2 linked regions of the Homo sapiens genome follow. The protein of the gene in region 1 purifies or fractionates together with the protein of each later gene. This does not show direct contact. Each region holds a gene or a part of one and is shown in the gene's direction. Other genes may lie near its edges.

Region 1 (7,755 bases):
ATTTTTTAATACAATTAAAAGAACCCAGTAATCCTACTCCTAGACCTGTGTCCCACAGAAAAAAGTGTTAAACATGAGCGTGTAGTACTAGGGCATTCGTTGTAGTACTATCCGTAGTGGCAAAACGCTGGAAGCAAATTAAATGCCCATTAATAGGGTAATTGATGACTTCAGATATTTCCATACTGTGGAATATTATGCAGTCATTAAAAAGAATGTTACAACTAATTGCTTTTCCTCTCAGAAGCCCCTCTCTCTCACTAGAGAAAGCTGTTCTCCTTTCTTTCTTCTGCCTATTAAACCTCCATTCCTAAACTCAGAAAGAAAAAAAAAAAAAGAGAATGTTACGACTAATTGACTTGGAGGGACTTCCATGGTGTACATTTAAATAAAAGGTAGATGTGAAGTGGGGTATATTATGTGATCTTAATTTCATAACACAAAGGAAAACATATAGATCCGTAGATAAGGATATATGGATATGGAGGAGAGAAAAGGAAAAGACTCAAAACTCACAGAATTTTTGAAGAAATGTATAGCTAAAAATCTAAGAAGGCTACAGTCAAGGCCTTGAGGCCAGAAGACACCCCATCAAAACTGAGTAAAACTAGCCCAGTGTGGGACGCAGAAATTCTAGTATGCTACCAAAATTACTTACGGATTGCTACCAGTTCCTTAGAAGGAAAACTGAGGACTAATATTTGTATTTTCAGTATAGTTTAGAATTCTTAAAAAATGAGCAAACAGGCTGTACTTGGTGGCTCATGCCTGTAATGCCAGGACTTGTGGAAACTGAGGTGAGAGGATAACTTGAGTCCAGAGGTTTGAGACCAGTCTGGGCAACATGTTGGAGCCCCATTTCTACAAAAAACACAAAAATTAGCCAGACGTGGTGGCACGCGCCTGTCTTCCCAGCTACTGGGGAGGATCATCTGAGCCTGGGGGAAGTTGAGGCTCCAGTGAGCCATGATCATGCCACTGGACTCCAGCAGGGGCAGAGTGAGACTTTGTCTGAAAAAAACAAAAAATGAATGAGCAACTAACTCTGGCTTTCATGATTTGTGCTTATAAATCTTTTTATTTATTTATTTATTTATTTATTTATTTATTTATTTATTTATTTTGAGACGGAGTCTTGCTCTGTCGCCCAGGCTGGAGCGCAGTGGCGCGATCTCGGCTCACTGCAACCTCCGCCTCCCGGGTTCACGCCATTCTCCAGCCTGAGCCTCCGGAGTAGCTGGGACTACAGGCGCCTGCCACCACGCCCAGCTAATTTTTTGTATTTTTAGTAGAGACGGGGTTTCACCGTGTTAGCCAGGATGGTTTCAATCTCCTGACCTTGTGATCCGCCCGACTCAGCCTCCCAAAGTGCTGGGATTACAGGCGAGCCACTGTACCCAGCCTATAAATTTTTTTTATAATGCCCTGATTCCCATTATTTGATGTATTTGGATAAATATGTCATCCTGTAAATTGAAGGATTAAACTGATAAGAGCAGAAAACAGAAATTAGTACACTAGTTGATCTGGCTCAGATATAGTGCCTATGTATCAGGTGCTCCATGAATATTTGTTGGATGAATAAATGATCATAAAACTATATAAAAATGAAGAAATAACAGAATAAAATAATTTGTTCTATATAAATCCTATGAATGAGATTGAGTGGGCTAATAGAATCCTTTCCATCTCAAAATGTTCTGGAAAGTCTTGAGTAAAAGACTCATCAAAAAAATAATTCTGCTTTGTGCAGAAAGAAGGGTTGCTGACCTTTGAAGGTGCTTTTTGAGTCTTTAACATTCTTTAGTAGTATATTCCCCAAAGTTAAGAAATTCTAGTTAGATTTTAAAAAATTGAGTTAACATTTAAAAAACAGTTTTGTTGAGGTATAATACACGTACCATAAAATTTACTCAATTTAAGTACAAAGTTTGATCAGTTTTAGTAAATTTATATAGTTGCACAGCTGTCATCAGAGGCTGCTTTTAAAACATGTCCATCACTCCAGAAGGGTTCCTGTGTCAATGGAATTGCTGGGTTATATTGTTTAAGTATTTGTTTAAAAAAACAGAAACAAATCTGCCTAACTTCTGCAGGCTATATACGAGTTAACATTTCCATGAGCAATGCATGAGGGTTGTGATTTTTCCACATCCCTGTCAACACTTGGTTTGTCAGTTTGTTTTTATTTAGCTGTTGTAGTGGATGGGTAGTGATGGTGTATGGTGGTTTTAATTTGTATTTCCTTCATGAATAATGATATTGAAGATTTTTTATATGTTTATTTTCCACCCGTATCTCTTTGGTGAAATGTCTTTATAAATTTTTGTGAATTTTTAAATCAAGATCATTAACCAAATGAGCCCCTCATTTGGGCTCAAGTGATCCTTCCACCTCAACCTCCCGAGTAGCTGGGACCACAGGTGCAGGCCACGCTTGGCTAATTTTTGTATATTTTGTAGAGGCGGGGTTTTGCCATGTTGCCCAGGCTGGTCTTAAACTCCTGAACTCAAGCAATTGGCCTGCCTCACATAAGTATTCTCTTTTATTTTGAGGATTAATTTTTGTTGTTGTGAAATATATCCTACCTGTAAAAGAGTGCTTAAAATGTCGTATGTGTGCTTTAAAGGATAATATAATGGAAACTTGTGTTCCTACTGCCCAGGTTAGGAAATGGGTTATTAATAACTTTGAAACCTCCTAAATGCCTCTCTCCTACTGCATTTTCCTTCCTCCACATCAGATGTAGTGTTTCTTCAATTTTATATTAATATTTTGTACTTTTTATAGTTTTACCATATATGTTTATATATATCCTTAATATATTAGTTTTTAAAATTTGTTATTAACCTTCAGTTTATTCATTATTTCAACACTGTATAGTATCTTATTGTAGTAAAGTATGTCAATTAACTTATCCATTCCACTAGATGGAGATCGGGATTATTTCTGGTTTTTAGTTATTAAAAACAATGCTGCTGCTGGGTGCAGTGGCTTACGCCTGTAATCCTAGCACTTTGGGAGGCCGAGGCTGCGGATCATGAGGTCAAGAGATCGAGATCATCCTGGCCAACATGGTGCAACTCCGTCTCTACTAAAAATACAAAAATTAGCAGGATGCGGTGCTGCGCGCCTGTAGTCCCTGCTACTCGGGAGGCTGAGGCGGGAGAATCACTTGAACCCAGGAGGCGGAGGTTGCAGTGAGCCGAGATTGTGCCACTGCACTTCAGCTTGGCAGAGCGAGACTTCGTCTCAAAAAAAAAAAAAAAAAAAGCTGCTATAAATATGGCCAAGACTAAGGAAAGGTAAGTGAGGTGCTTAGGGTTCACATTTTATGGAGTAAGAGTAAGTACCTTCTTAAGGTTTATACCCTAGGTTCTTCACATGCCTCACTTTAGTCCTAGCCCTGAGCATTATTATGTAGGTCTTCTGATGCAATATCTAAGAGTTTCTCTAAGGTATACCTAGAAATAGATTGCTAGGTAATGGAGTAACTTTATTACTTACAGGAAACTATATGGTGGTTGTAACAATTTATGCTTCTGCCACCAGTCATGGTGGATATGAAATTATGTCTTAATGTGATAATTTACATTGCAATTTTTTTTTTTTTTTTTTTTTTTTTTTTTGAGACAGAGTCTTGCTCTGTCACCCAGGCTGGAGTGCAGTGGCGTGATCTTGGCTCACTGCAACCTCTGCCTCCTGGGCTCAAGTGATCCTTCCACCTCAGCCTCCCGAGTAGCTGAGACCACAGGCGCAGGCCACACTTGGCTAATTTTTGTATATTCTGTAGAGGCGGGGTTTCGTCATGTTACCCAGGCTGGTCTTAAACTCCTGAACTCAAGCAATCGGCCTGCCTCAGCCTACCGAAGTGCTGGGATTAGAGGTGTGAGCCACCACACCTGGCTGTTTGTTTGTTTTGAGCCTGTTCCTCAGGCTGGAGTGCAGTGGTCCAATCATGGCTTGCTGCAACTCCGCTTCCTGGGCTTAAGAGATCCTCCCACCTCAGCCTTCTGAGTAGCTAGGACTAAGGGCACCTGCCACTATGCCTGGCTAATTTCTAAAGTTTTTTTTATAGAGGCAGAGTCTCGCTGTTTTGCCCAAGCTGTTCTCAAATTTCTAGGCTCGTGTGATCCTCCTGCCTCAGCCTCCCAAAGTGCTGGGATTATAGGTGTGAGCCACCACACCTGGCTGATCTATCTGTCTTAAACTGGAGAATTGCATTTTTTTCTACCTCCTTTCTTTTTTTTAAAAAAACTGAATTTCCATCTGTTACCCCTCCCTTTCTGCTCCTCTTATTTCATGCCTTGGAAGTTATACTTTGCCTTCCTTTAATGAGTACCAAAGAAATTAAAAAATACATGTTTACTGTAAGTCCAGGCCTAAATGTTGCTACTACAGGGACCATCAAATGCTTTACTACCATCTATTGCCATCTGCAAATGTATGCCATTGTTGTTTAGTTTTGTAGTTCTTAATGTATTTTAATTAAACACCACAAATTATGCTTTTTGTTTGTTTTATTCAGTCAGTAGATGCTTAGAATACTTGCTTATTTTACCAATTCCTTTGCTTATTCCACTCCTTTGTTCTGGGATTATTTTTCTTTTTCCTAATATATTTTCATTAAAAGTTTATTTGGTGAGAATCTAAAAACTCTCAAATTCTGAAAGTTTTAAAAATTTGCCTTTGTTGTTGAAAATTAGTTTTGATGGGTGAGAGAATCTAGATCAGGTGTTAGCAAACCTTTTTTTGTAAAGGGCCAGATAGTAAATATTGTGGGCTTTGTGGGCCATAGAGTCTCTCTGACAACTACTCAGCAATGCTGTTGTAGGACAAAAGCAACCATAGACATTATGTAAACATGAGTGTGGGTATGTTCTCACAAATTTTGTTTATAGACACTGAAATTTGACTCAATTTTCATGTGTTAAAAATTATTATTTTTTGAATTTTTTTAACCATATAAAAATGTAAAAATCATTCGTAGCTTGTAGACCAAATAAACAGGATGGATTTGACCTGTGGGCCATAGTTTGCTGACCTCTGGTCTAAATTAACATTCATTTTACTTAGTACCTGACACTGGAGTAATTATTCTTATGATGTCTTATTGTGATATTGTCTTCCATTTTTAATTGTTGAAGAGCCAGCTGTCAGTCTTTTTTGTTTTTCTTTTTCTTCTTCTTTTTTTTTTGAAATGGAGTTTTGCTCTTATCGCCCAAGCTGGAGTGCAGTGGTGTGATCTTGGCCCACTGCAACCTCTGCCTTCTGGGTTCAAGCGATTTTCCTGCCTCAGCCTCCCAAGTAGCTGGGATTACAGGTGCCTGCCACCACACCCAGCTAATTTTTGTATTTTTAGTAGAGATGGGGCTTCACCATGTTGGCCAGGCTGGTGTTGAACTCCTAACCTCAGGTGATCCACCTGCCTTGGCCTCCCAAAGTGCTGCAATTACAGGCATGAGGCACGGCGTCTGGCCTTTCTTTCCTTTTTTTTTTTTTTTGAGACGTAGTCTTGCTCTGTTGCCCAGGCCGGGGGGCGATGGTACGATCTTGGCTCATTGCAACCTCTGCTTCCCAAGTTCAAGCCATTCTCCTGCCTCAGCCTCCCAAGTAGCTGGGACTATAGGCACGTGCCACCATGCCGAGCTAATTTTTGTATATTTAGTAGAGACGGGGTTTCACCATGTTGTCCAGGCTGGTCTTGAACTCCTGACCTCAAGTGATCCTCTCGCCTTGGCCTCTCAAATAACTGTCCTTTCTTTGTTGGTAATCTGGTGATATGTTTTCTTGTTTGGCTGCTTTTAAGAGCTGCTTCTTGTCTCTGGTGCAGTTCGCTATGATGTATCTAAGTATGTATTTATTTTCATTTAACCTGGTCAGGATTTGTTGAGTATCCAGAAACTAAGGATTGGTGTTTCTCATTACATCTGGAAAAATTTGAGCCATTATTTTTGCTTATATTGTGGTATGTCATAGGAAGTTGAGAAAAGAAAAATTCATTTGATGGTTTTCTATGAGGTTATAGTGGAAAATAACTATCTCCCTTTTAGAATTGAGTGCTAGACAGTTTCTGTGTAGATGATCTCATAAGCTTCCTTTTATCAAACAGCGATCACTTTTTTGGTTTGGCTGCTGAGAAGTATGGCATCAAGTATAATACTCATATGAGGTGTTTAAGAACTGAGTATATTTCTTATGCACATTTTACTATATACTATAATTATACATTAAAAATGCACATTGTAAATATTATAAATATGTGTTATACATTGTTAATAGTTTGGATAGCAAAAGTATGACTTGACATTTGTTTTTTAAACCATATTTAAAGTAACTCTATCACAATATGGATTTAATGGATTAATTGCATAATTGGTGAGCTACTGATTATTCTTGTTATTTGGATGCTTCTTTAAGTTAGCAAGTTTATATTGTGGTGCTTCAATATAGACTACTTATTTCATTTCAGAGAACTCAATTTCCTGTATCTACTGAGTCTCAAAAACCCCGGCAGAAAAAAGGTCTGTATGCAGTTTCATGGTATGTGTATGTTTGCACAGACAGATTTCTCTTTTATTTATTTATTTATTTTTTTTTTTGGAGGCAGAGTCTCACTGTCACCCAGGCTGGAGTGCAGTAGCACAATCTTGGCTCACTGCAACCTTTGCCTCTGGGGCTCAAGCAATTCTCCTGCCTCAGCCTCCCGAGTAGCTGGGATTACAGGTGCACGCCACCACACCTGGCTAACTTTTGTGTTTTAGTAGAGATGAGGTTTCACTGTGTTTGCCAGGCTGGTCTCGAACTCCTGACCTCAGGTGATCTGCCCACCTTGGCCTCCCAAAGTGTTGGGATTACAGGCGTGAGCCGCCACGCCTGGCCAGATTTCTCTCTCTTGTTGATTCTTTTATCTATTCTATATTATTTCAAAATGAGTGTTGGGAAAAGAAGTAATAGTCTAAATGTTCTGTCACATCTAGCTTTTATTTAATAGAGTTATTAGATATTAGGAGGTTGGTTTGACCTGGAAATTATTTAAATGGGGTTTGATTATTATGTAAGTGTGTACTAATTTTCTGCTTCTGGAAAAACCACTTTGTGAAGTTCCAGGTATCTTTTTGCTTTGTTGGTTTCTAGTTTAATTCTATTGTGGGTAGAGAACATTCTTTATATGGTTTGTTTTATGGCCCACAATGTGGCCTGTGTTGGTGCATGTCCCATGTACACTTGGAAATAATGTGTATTCTGCTCTTGTAGGATGTAGCATTCTGTAAATGTCAATTAGGTCAAGTTGGTTGATAGTGTTCTGTATATACTTACAATTACAGATATTCATATTCTTACTGATGTAGTTACTGATTGGAAGGGTGATAGAAGAGTGTTGAAGTGTGCAAATGTAATTGTGGATTTGTTTCTACTTTCAGTTCTATCAATTTTTGATTTGTGTATTTTGAAGATCTGTTGTTGGATGCATATACATTTAGGATTGTCTGATTTCTTGGTAAATTGACCCGTTTGTCTTTATATAATATTCCTCTTCAATTTCTGATAATATTCCTTGTTTGAAGTCTACTTTGCCTGATAATATTTTAGTTTTAGTTATTTATTTAGCTATTTTAGTTTTGCTTTGGCCAGTCTTTGAATGGTATCAACATATAATTTTCGTAGAGTAAAATTCCCTTTTTTTAGTACAAATTCTGAGTTTCGACAAATGAAACTAGCCATGTAACCACTAGTAGCACCATAATCAAGTTA
Region 2 (8,635 bases), on another chromosome or scaffold:
TTTGTCACATCTGAGAGGCAGCCATCTTCTGTTGAGTTTTATAAAGACCACCAAGATGTCTCTGATACCCTAAAACATCTTTAAAAAGAGGACACACAGTGGTAATTTAACTTGACATTTTCTTTATTGTGAATAAAAATTCCTTACCCTGCTAATTAATTATTTGAGGAATACTTAAAATTAGTAGGTTGAAATCTTTACTAATCATTTAGAAACAAAACATAGTATGTACTTTAAAAATAATAAATTGCATTTTTAGATGCAAAATCAAAGAATTCCAAATATCATATTATGCAAACTTTTTGTATTGTTTTGATGCTATATCATAGCCTCATTTCACTGTTTTAAAATAAATTTGAGCTTCAAAATAAACTTTTACTTTCCTTCTACACAATTAATTGAACAGTGGACATCACTTGCTAAATGGAAAGTAAGCACTGCCAGCATTGTCTGTCTTTGGTGTTTTTTTTTTTACCTATTTATTAGAACCATAGTATTTCTTCATTATTAATTTGTATGAACTATTTTTTAAGATATTAACTCTTTTCTCCTATATTTTTGTTTTCATTTAAACATTGTTGTGACATATTGAAATGTTTATCTTTACTTTTCATTTTTTTTAAGTTAGTTTTTTGTTTGTTTTTTAGAGATGGGGCCTTGCTATTTTGCCCAGGCTGGATTGTTGGGCTCAAGCAATCTTGAGCCTCAGCCTTCAAATAGCTGAGACTACAGGCATGTAACACCATATCTGCTTTTTTCCTTTGTGGTTTCTTCTATTCCTTTTGAGATCAGTTTCCTTCTGTTATGGGCTGAATTGTGTCCCCTCAAAACTCATGTTAAAGTCCTCGCCTTCAGTATCTCAGACTATAACTATAGTTGGAGATAGGGTCTTTAAAGAGGTAATTAATTTAAAATGAGATAATATGACTGGTGTGCTTATAAAAAGACAAGATGAGACACAGACAGACATAGAGGGAGGACCACGTGAAGACACGGAGAAGATGACGATCTATAAGCCAAGAAGAGAGGCCTCTGAAGATCGGTTTTATTCCCTGCTGACACCTTGATCTATGACTTCTAGACTCCAAGACTGTGAGAAAATAAATTTCTGTTGTTGAAAAGCCTCCCAGTGTGTACTACTTTGCTATGGCAGCCCTAGCAAACTAATACTATATCCTCCAACCTCCAAAATTCTGTAAAATGCTATACAATTCTATTTTCTTCTGTCTTTTCTATGGCTTTATTTTTCAGTTGACTTCTAAAATTTATTTGTATTTTTTTCTTGAATCTAAATTGATATATATTTCCCCCAAATTGCTGAACAGCTAACCCATCTACATGTATTGTCTATTTTAATGTGGGATTATTTTAGCCTCAGAGATATAATTGTCTGGAACACAGGGAAAACTTTTTCAGATATTGCTGCAGTAAATAACTTCTCTTCTTAAGAAGCACCTCTTCTCAGGGATTTAATTCTTTTTGTTTCACAATTATTTGTGAACTCTTTCCTGGAAAACCACAGTGGCTCATGTCTGTAATCCCAGAACTTTGGGAGGCTGAGGTGGGCGGACCACTCGAGCCCAGGAGTTCAATACCAGCCTGGGCAACATGGCAAAACTCCATCTCTACAAAAAAAAAAAAAAAGAAAGAAAGAAAAAGAAAAACCACAAGAATCAGGAAAGTAGCTGTATCTGAACTTATCTGTATTTCCCCAGGCAGAGCTCTATGCACATTAAGGAAGGACCGATGAAAGTGAGTCAAAGAATGTCAGCTCTTAAATCCTGGGTCACTATGGGTCAGTAGTAGTCTGTGGGGCCCCGAGGGGCAGGGGTGGTTCCTGAGGCCTTTTCACAGCTGTCTGCAATTTTGAAACTATTTTCATAACACTAAGTTGTGATTTGCCATTTCACTCTGCTGACATTTGCACTGATGGTACCGAAACAATGGTGGTTAATACTGCTAGTGCTTAAGCATAAATCAAAATAGTGGCTCCAAACTGTACTAGTAGACACCATATTCTATATAACATGCACTGATAGGAAACAAAAACCATTTCATATAAAAATGTTCTTAACGAAGCAGCAACATTGTTAATATTATCTTTTTTTCTTTTTTCTTTCTTCTGATTCAGCCCTCATTTATTACATCTTAACTCTTGAATATGTCTTTTTAAATGTTCTATGTGAGGACATAAGAAGTATGTATAAAATCCTTCTACTGAATACTGAAATACATTAGTTGTCTCAAGGAAAAGCACTTGTGGGATTGAGCTGCTAGCTGAACTTCCTGCTTTTTTCATGGGACACTTTTTATTTGAAGGAATTACTCACAAATTATGATTATTCAGACTTAGATATCTGGCATTTACTTTCTTGTGAATTCAAGAAGGGAACCTATCAGTTCAAGGAAAACAATCGACATTTCTTGCCAATGTGTAAATTTCAAACTTTCAAGCACAAATTTGAATTTTGGAAAATATGTATTCACCATCTAAGTTTGACAGATCTCCCATACTCGGGACTTTACTGATGAGATCCATGGTGATACTAACAGATGGAATTTTTTGATGTTGTGTAACAAAGTCACATTTCACATTGCAACTAACCTTTCAAAAAACTACTACTTGTTGAGTTTGGACCAAATTTTCTTCATATACATGAACAAAAACAACATATAACAATAGATTGAATGCAGTAGCAGATTTGAAGCTCCTCCTGTCTACTATTAAAATGGACAGAAAATAGATTTGCGCACAGTACCAGTTATTTTATTTTTTTATTTTGGAAAATATTTTTTTCATTAAGATATTTGTCATAGGTTTTTAAAAAACACTAATTGTTTTCAGTTCTAATGTCTAATATGGTAAAAATCAATAGGTAACTCATATAAACAAATGGTCTTTATACTTTCCAAAGCAATCTACAGATTCAGTGCAATTCCCATCAAAATATCATTACTACTTTTCACAGAACTAAAAAAAAAATTCTAAAATTCATATGGAACCAAAAGACAGCCTGAATAGCCAAAGCAATAATAAGCAAAAAGAACAAATCTGGAGGCATCACGTTACCACACTTCAAATTATACTGCAAGGCAAGTTACCAAAACAGCATGGTACAGGTAAAATAAATAAATAAATAAATAAAGACACATAGACCAATGGAACAGAATAGAGAACCCAGAAATAAAGCCAAGTACTTACAGTCAACTGATCTTCAACAAAGCATACAAAAACATAAATTGGGAAAAGGGCGCCCTATTCAATAAATGGTGCTGGGAAAACTAGTTTAGCCACAGGTAGAAGAATGAAACTGGATTCCCATCTCTCACCTTATACAAAAATCAACTCAAGATGAATCAAAGACTTAAATCTAAGACCTGAAACCACAAAAATTTTAGAAGATAACATTGGAAAAACTCTTTTGGACATTAGCCAAATGCAACAAAAACAAAAATAAATAAATGGGACCTAAATAAACTAAAAAGCTTCTGCACAGCAAAAGAAATAATCAGTAAACAGCCCATAGAGTAAAAGAAAATATTTTCAAACTGTGCATCTGATAAAGGACTTGTACCTAGAATCTACAAGGAACTCAAACAAATCAGCTAGAAAAAAACAATCCCATCAAAAAGTGGGCAAAGGACATTTTTCAAAAGAAGATATACAAATAGCCAACAAACATGAAAAGATGCTCAACATCACTAAATCACCAGGGAAATGCAAATTAAAACCACAGTGAGATACCACCTTACTCCTGCAATAATGGCCATGAGGCAGGCGGATCACGAGGTCAGGAGTTCGAGACCAGCCTGGCCAACATGGCAAAACCCTGTTTCTACTAAAAATACAAAAATCAGCCAGGCGTGGTGGCGGGCACCTGTAATCCCAGCTACTCGGGAGGCTGAGGCAGGAGAATCACTTGAACCCGGGAGCCGGAGGTTGCAGTGAGCCGAGATAGTGCCATTGCACTCCAGACTGGGGGACAAGAGCAAGACTCTGTCTCAAAAAAAAAAAAATAAACATAAAAAATAAAATTTAGAAAATATACGTTGGTGTCGATATGGTGAAAAGGGAACACTTTTGCACTGCTTGGGGGATGTAAATTAATACCACCACTATGGAAAACAGTATAAAGTTTCCTTAAATAAATAAATAAAGGTGGAGCTACCATTCAATCCAGCAATCCCACTACTGGGTATCTACCCAAAGGAAAAAGACACATATACACGCATGTTTATAGCAGCATAAGTCGCAATTGCAAAGATATGGGGCCAACCTAAGTGCCCATTGACTAACGAGTGGATAAAGAAAATGTAGTATATATACACCATTGAATACTACTCAGCCATAAAAAGGAACGAAATAATATCTTTTGGCAGCAACTTGGATGGAACTGGAGGCCATTATTCTAAGTGAAGTAACTTAGGAATAGAAAACCAAATACTGCATGTTCAGTTATGAGGATGCAAAGACATACAGAGCGATATAATGGATTCTGGGAACTCCAGGTAGGGAGGAGATTGGGAGCGGGGTGAGGGATAAAATACTACATATTGGGTACAGTGTACACTGGTGGGTGACGGGTACACTAAAATCTCGGAATTCGCCACTCAAGAGCTCATCCATGTAACCAAAACCCGCCTGTACACCCAAAACTATTGAAATAAAAAAAACATTAAAAATGAGAGAAAACCCACAAAAAGCAAATGGTCTTTGTGCTCCTCAACGGTTTTTAAGAGTCTTGTAAATAAGTCCTAAGGCCAAAAGTCTAAGAACCGCTGCTGTAAGCTAGCACCTATAACGGTGGAACCTAATTCTTTGTAGGACCCTTTCCAATGTCAGAGTGAAATCGGTCAGAATCTAGCAGGCTTATCTAGTTTTTTCTACAGCGATAAGGAAAGAAGTCCAGTATTAGCCCTGGGCCGCGGTGAGGGTGGAGCCAAGACTGCGTCTGGGGTCTCTGTGGAAACCGCCCTGTATGGGTCTCCCGGACCTCGCCTCTTTTGTTCCTCTCCGCCTCTGATTGGAACACGCTGTCAGTGGGCGGTGCTTCGGGAAAGGGGCGGGCCTTCATCTTCTTCCAGGAGCCCCTCGCAGCAGCGTACTGACGTCACGCAGGACGCCACTGCCCTGTCGCCCCGCCTGTGCAGCCCAGGACCTAGGCGCGGTAGCTGGGGCTGGCTTTTGAGGGGCGCGGGCAGCCTTCTGACTGGGTCGGAGGCCTGCGGGCCCGAAGCCTCTGTCCCTCCTGTTCTTGTCCGGCGCTGCTTAGCCCCTCCGCGTAGTCATCATGGATCTGATTTTAAACCGAATGGATTATCTGCAGGTAAACCCAAGGGATAGGGCGGGCGCCGCGCTGGGCAAGCCCAGCACCCGGAGAGGATTCCTTCCTTCCACTGACGAAAGTCTCGGTCGCCAGGAGCTGGTGCGGAGGCGAAGGAGCCGGGCTGGGTGCCGACCTCTCAGCACCCCGCCTTTGGGCAGCTCCCTTTCGTCTGTGACGGTCCGAGGGGACCGGGGAAAAGCGGCACAAGCCCCCACGGTACTGGCTTCTGCCGGGTCCTGAGGATGCTCTGAAAATGTGACACTGTCTCATCCCGGATTCCCCCCAGGGCCCTTCTCCTCCTCCCTAGCCGTGGCTGCCTGAGGGCCTCTAATCCTCAATCTCCATCTCTACCCGGACCCTTTTGCGGAGCACCAGGCACTTGTTTCTTACTGTGAGCTGTACCGCACCAGGCAGATCATGGTAAAAGCAATGAAAACCGGGCCGGGGGCAGTGGCTCACGCCTGTTATCCCAGCACTTTGGGAGGCCGAGGCGGGCGGATCACCTAAGGTCAGCAGTTCGAGACCAGCCTAGCCTACATGGTTAAACCTCTTCTCTACAAAAAGTACAAAAATTAGCCCGGTGTGGTGGCGGGCGCCTGTAATCCCAGGTACTCGGGAGGTTAAGGCAGGAGAATCGCTTGAACTCGGGAGGCGGAGGCTGCAGTGAGCTGACATCATGCCACTGCACTCCAGCTGGGGCGACAGAGCGAGACTGTCTCGAAAGGGGGAAAAAAAGCAATGACAACAGTTTAATGTGCATCTAGCTTATTCTAAGAATTTAGCATACCTACCAACATATTTAATCCTCATAAGAATTTGCAAAGTAGACAATATTATAAATGAGGATCTAAGGGGTTAGAGAAGGCAAGTAATTTGCTTAATAGCTAAAAATTAGGGAGTGGCTATTTGAATCAAAGTCTCGGACTCCAGAACTGGTGTATTTTTGTTACACTACACTGCCTTTCAGAATTTCTTTCAGACCTAAAATTCTCTCTACCCCAATTCCTCATCATATTTTTAGGCCACCTCATTTTAGTTAATGGTACAAATGTTTGCCCAGTCAATTTTCTAGGGGTTTATGCTATGTACTTCCATATCCAACTGGTCACCACATCTTACTGCTTTTAACTCCCAAATATCTCTTGAATCTGTCCCATATCTTCCATCTCTATTACCCTCATTTGGGTTCTCATCTTCTCTTGCTTGAATAATTGAAATAACCTCCAAATTGGGCTCCTGAACTCCAGCTTCATCTCCCTCCAAGCCATCCTTCACATCACTTGCTAGATTGATGTTTCAGAAATACAAATCTAAGCAGATGACTTTAATACAATTTTCTGGAATGCAGAATAAAGTCATTTATACTATATGAACGTTTTATCATGATGTGTTGTTTTCACCAATTCCTCTCCCATTGGTCCCATCCTCTTCTCCTAACTATACACCAGCAGTGACAGTTCCCTGCTGCTTTCATCCTCTGTATTTTTTTGTAAAATAATCTTCACCTGTTAGATTGGATGTTATGGCCATTATCATATTTGGTATTTTAGCATAAATCTTCTTTTTTTTTTTTTTTTTTTTTTTTTTTTTTTTGAAACAGGGTCTTGTTCTGTCACGCAGCCAGTCTGGAGTACAGTGGCATGATCATGACTCACCACAGCCTCAAATTCCTGGACTCAAGTTATCCTCCTGCCTCAGCCTTCCAAGTAGTTGGGCCTGCAGGCATGCACCACCATGCCTAGCTAATTTTTTATTTTTTGTAGAGACAGAGTCTCCCTGTGTTGCCTAGATGGTGTTGAACACCTGGGCTCAAGTGATCCTCCCACTTCAGCCTCCCAAAGTGCTGAGATTACAGGCATGAGCCACTGCATGTGGTCTTCCGTTGCATTTTTAATAACTATAATCTATTTTCAAAGTTCTTGAATCACTTTGCTGAACAACTGTATGCAGTTGGAAAAGAAGGCTTCTAGAGATATTTTTTAGTAAAGCATCTTGCCAGTCATCTTACACAACTATTTTTGGCTTGACAACTTTATAGGATAAATTTTACTATTTTGGTTGTTTCCTATATGTATTCTGACTAATATGACATATCTCATTAGAAAATAAATTAATTACTGATAATAGTTATATCACTAATTTCAGTTTAACAAAAAGGTTCACTATAACTTATTTTAATCTCTGTAATAACTTCAAATTAAATTCACTAGGCATCTGGTGTTTTTCTTTAGGTGGGAGTAACATCTCAGAAGACTATGAAGCTAATTCCTGCCTCAAGACACAGAGCTACACAAAAGGTACTGTATAGATTCTGATTTCTCCACTATTCCCTAGCAGTGACAGAGGAGAGGCTCCTATTTCCTTCTTTATTATTAAGTTATTCTCTTAAAAATGCTAATGTTAAAATGGAAATGAATTTTTTAATTTGAACAGAAACTGGAATACCAAGGGACATTTATAGACAATAATTTTCTTGGACATTAAAATTATTATATACCATTAGTAAACAGTGTAGGCAAACTTAAAAACCATACTCCATTTTTTCTGTGTGTCAGATGTGTATATGAAAAAAGAAATATAAAGCAGAATAAGGTATCAAGAAAATGTTCTCTTTAAACTTTCTCATATTTTAAAGTCATTAAATATTTTGATGTTAAACTGTACTTAACTAACAATATTGATTATGTTTAAAGAAATGTTGATCCTATGATTTCCACAAAACAATTATAGTTTCTTAGTAGACTAGCCAAATATTTTAATAGCTGCAAAAAAATACTTTATCCTGATATATAAACATTTTAGCAAGATGAATCAACAATTACACATAGTACTAGAAGTCCTAGCCAGAGCAATTATACAAGAAAAAGAAATAAAGTGCATCCAGATTGGAAAGGAGAGTCAAATTATCTCTGTTTGCCGATGACATGATCCTATATATAGAAAAACCTAAAGACTCTACCAAAAAACTCTTAGAACTGACAAATGAATTCAGTAAAGTTGCAGGATACAAAATTAATATACTGAAATTAGTAGTGTTTCTATACACAACAAACTAGCTGAAAAAGAAATCAAGAACACAATCCCAATTATAATAGATAAAAGATAAAATACTTAGGAATAAATTAACCAAGGAAATGAAAGACCTCTATAAAAAAAACTATAAAACACTGATGAAAGAAATTAAAGAGGATACCAACAAATGGAAAAACATCCCATGTTCATGGATTGGAAGAATTAATTTTGTTAAAATAACAATACAACCCAAAGCAATCTACAGATTCAATGCAATCTCTATCGAAATACCAATG

What was found.
Region 2: the proteins of BBS4 (region 1) and BBS7 purify together in Homo sapiens (co-immunoprecipitation; 8 studies listed by BioGRID and IntAct, with this or other methods). This does not show direct contact.

What each region holds. Positions count from the first base shown.
Region 1 is NC_000015.10:72,688,705-72,696,459, forward strand, and holds part of BBS4 (BBSome complex member BBS4), read left to right. Parts: intron 1-6,472; coding exon 6,473-6,524; intron 6,525-7,755.
Region 2 is NC_000004.12:121,866,970-121,875,604, reverse strand, and holds the start of BBS7 (BBSome complex member BBS7), read left to right. Parts: upstream 1-5,130; 5' UTR 5,131-5,291; coding exon 5,292-5,327; intron 5,328-7,558; coding exon 7,559-7,624; intron 7,625-8,635.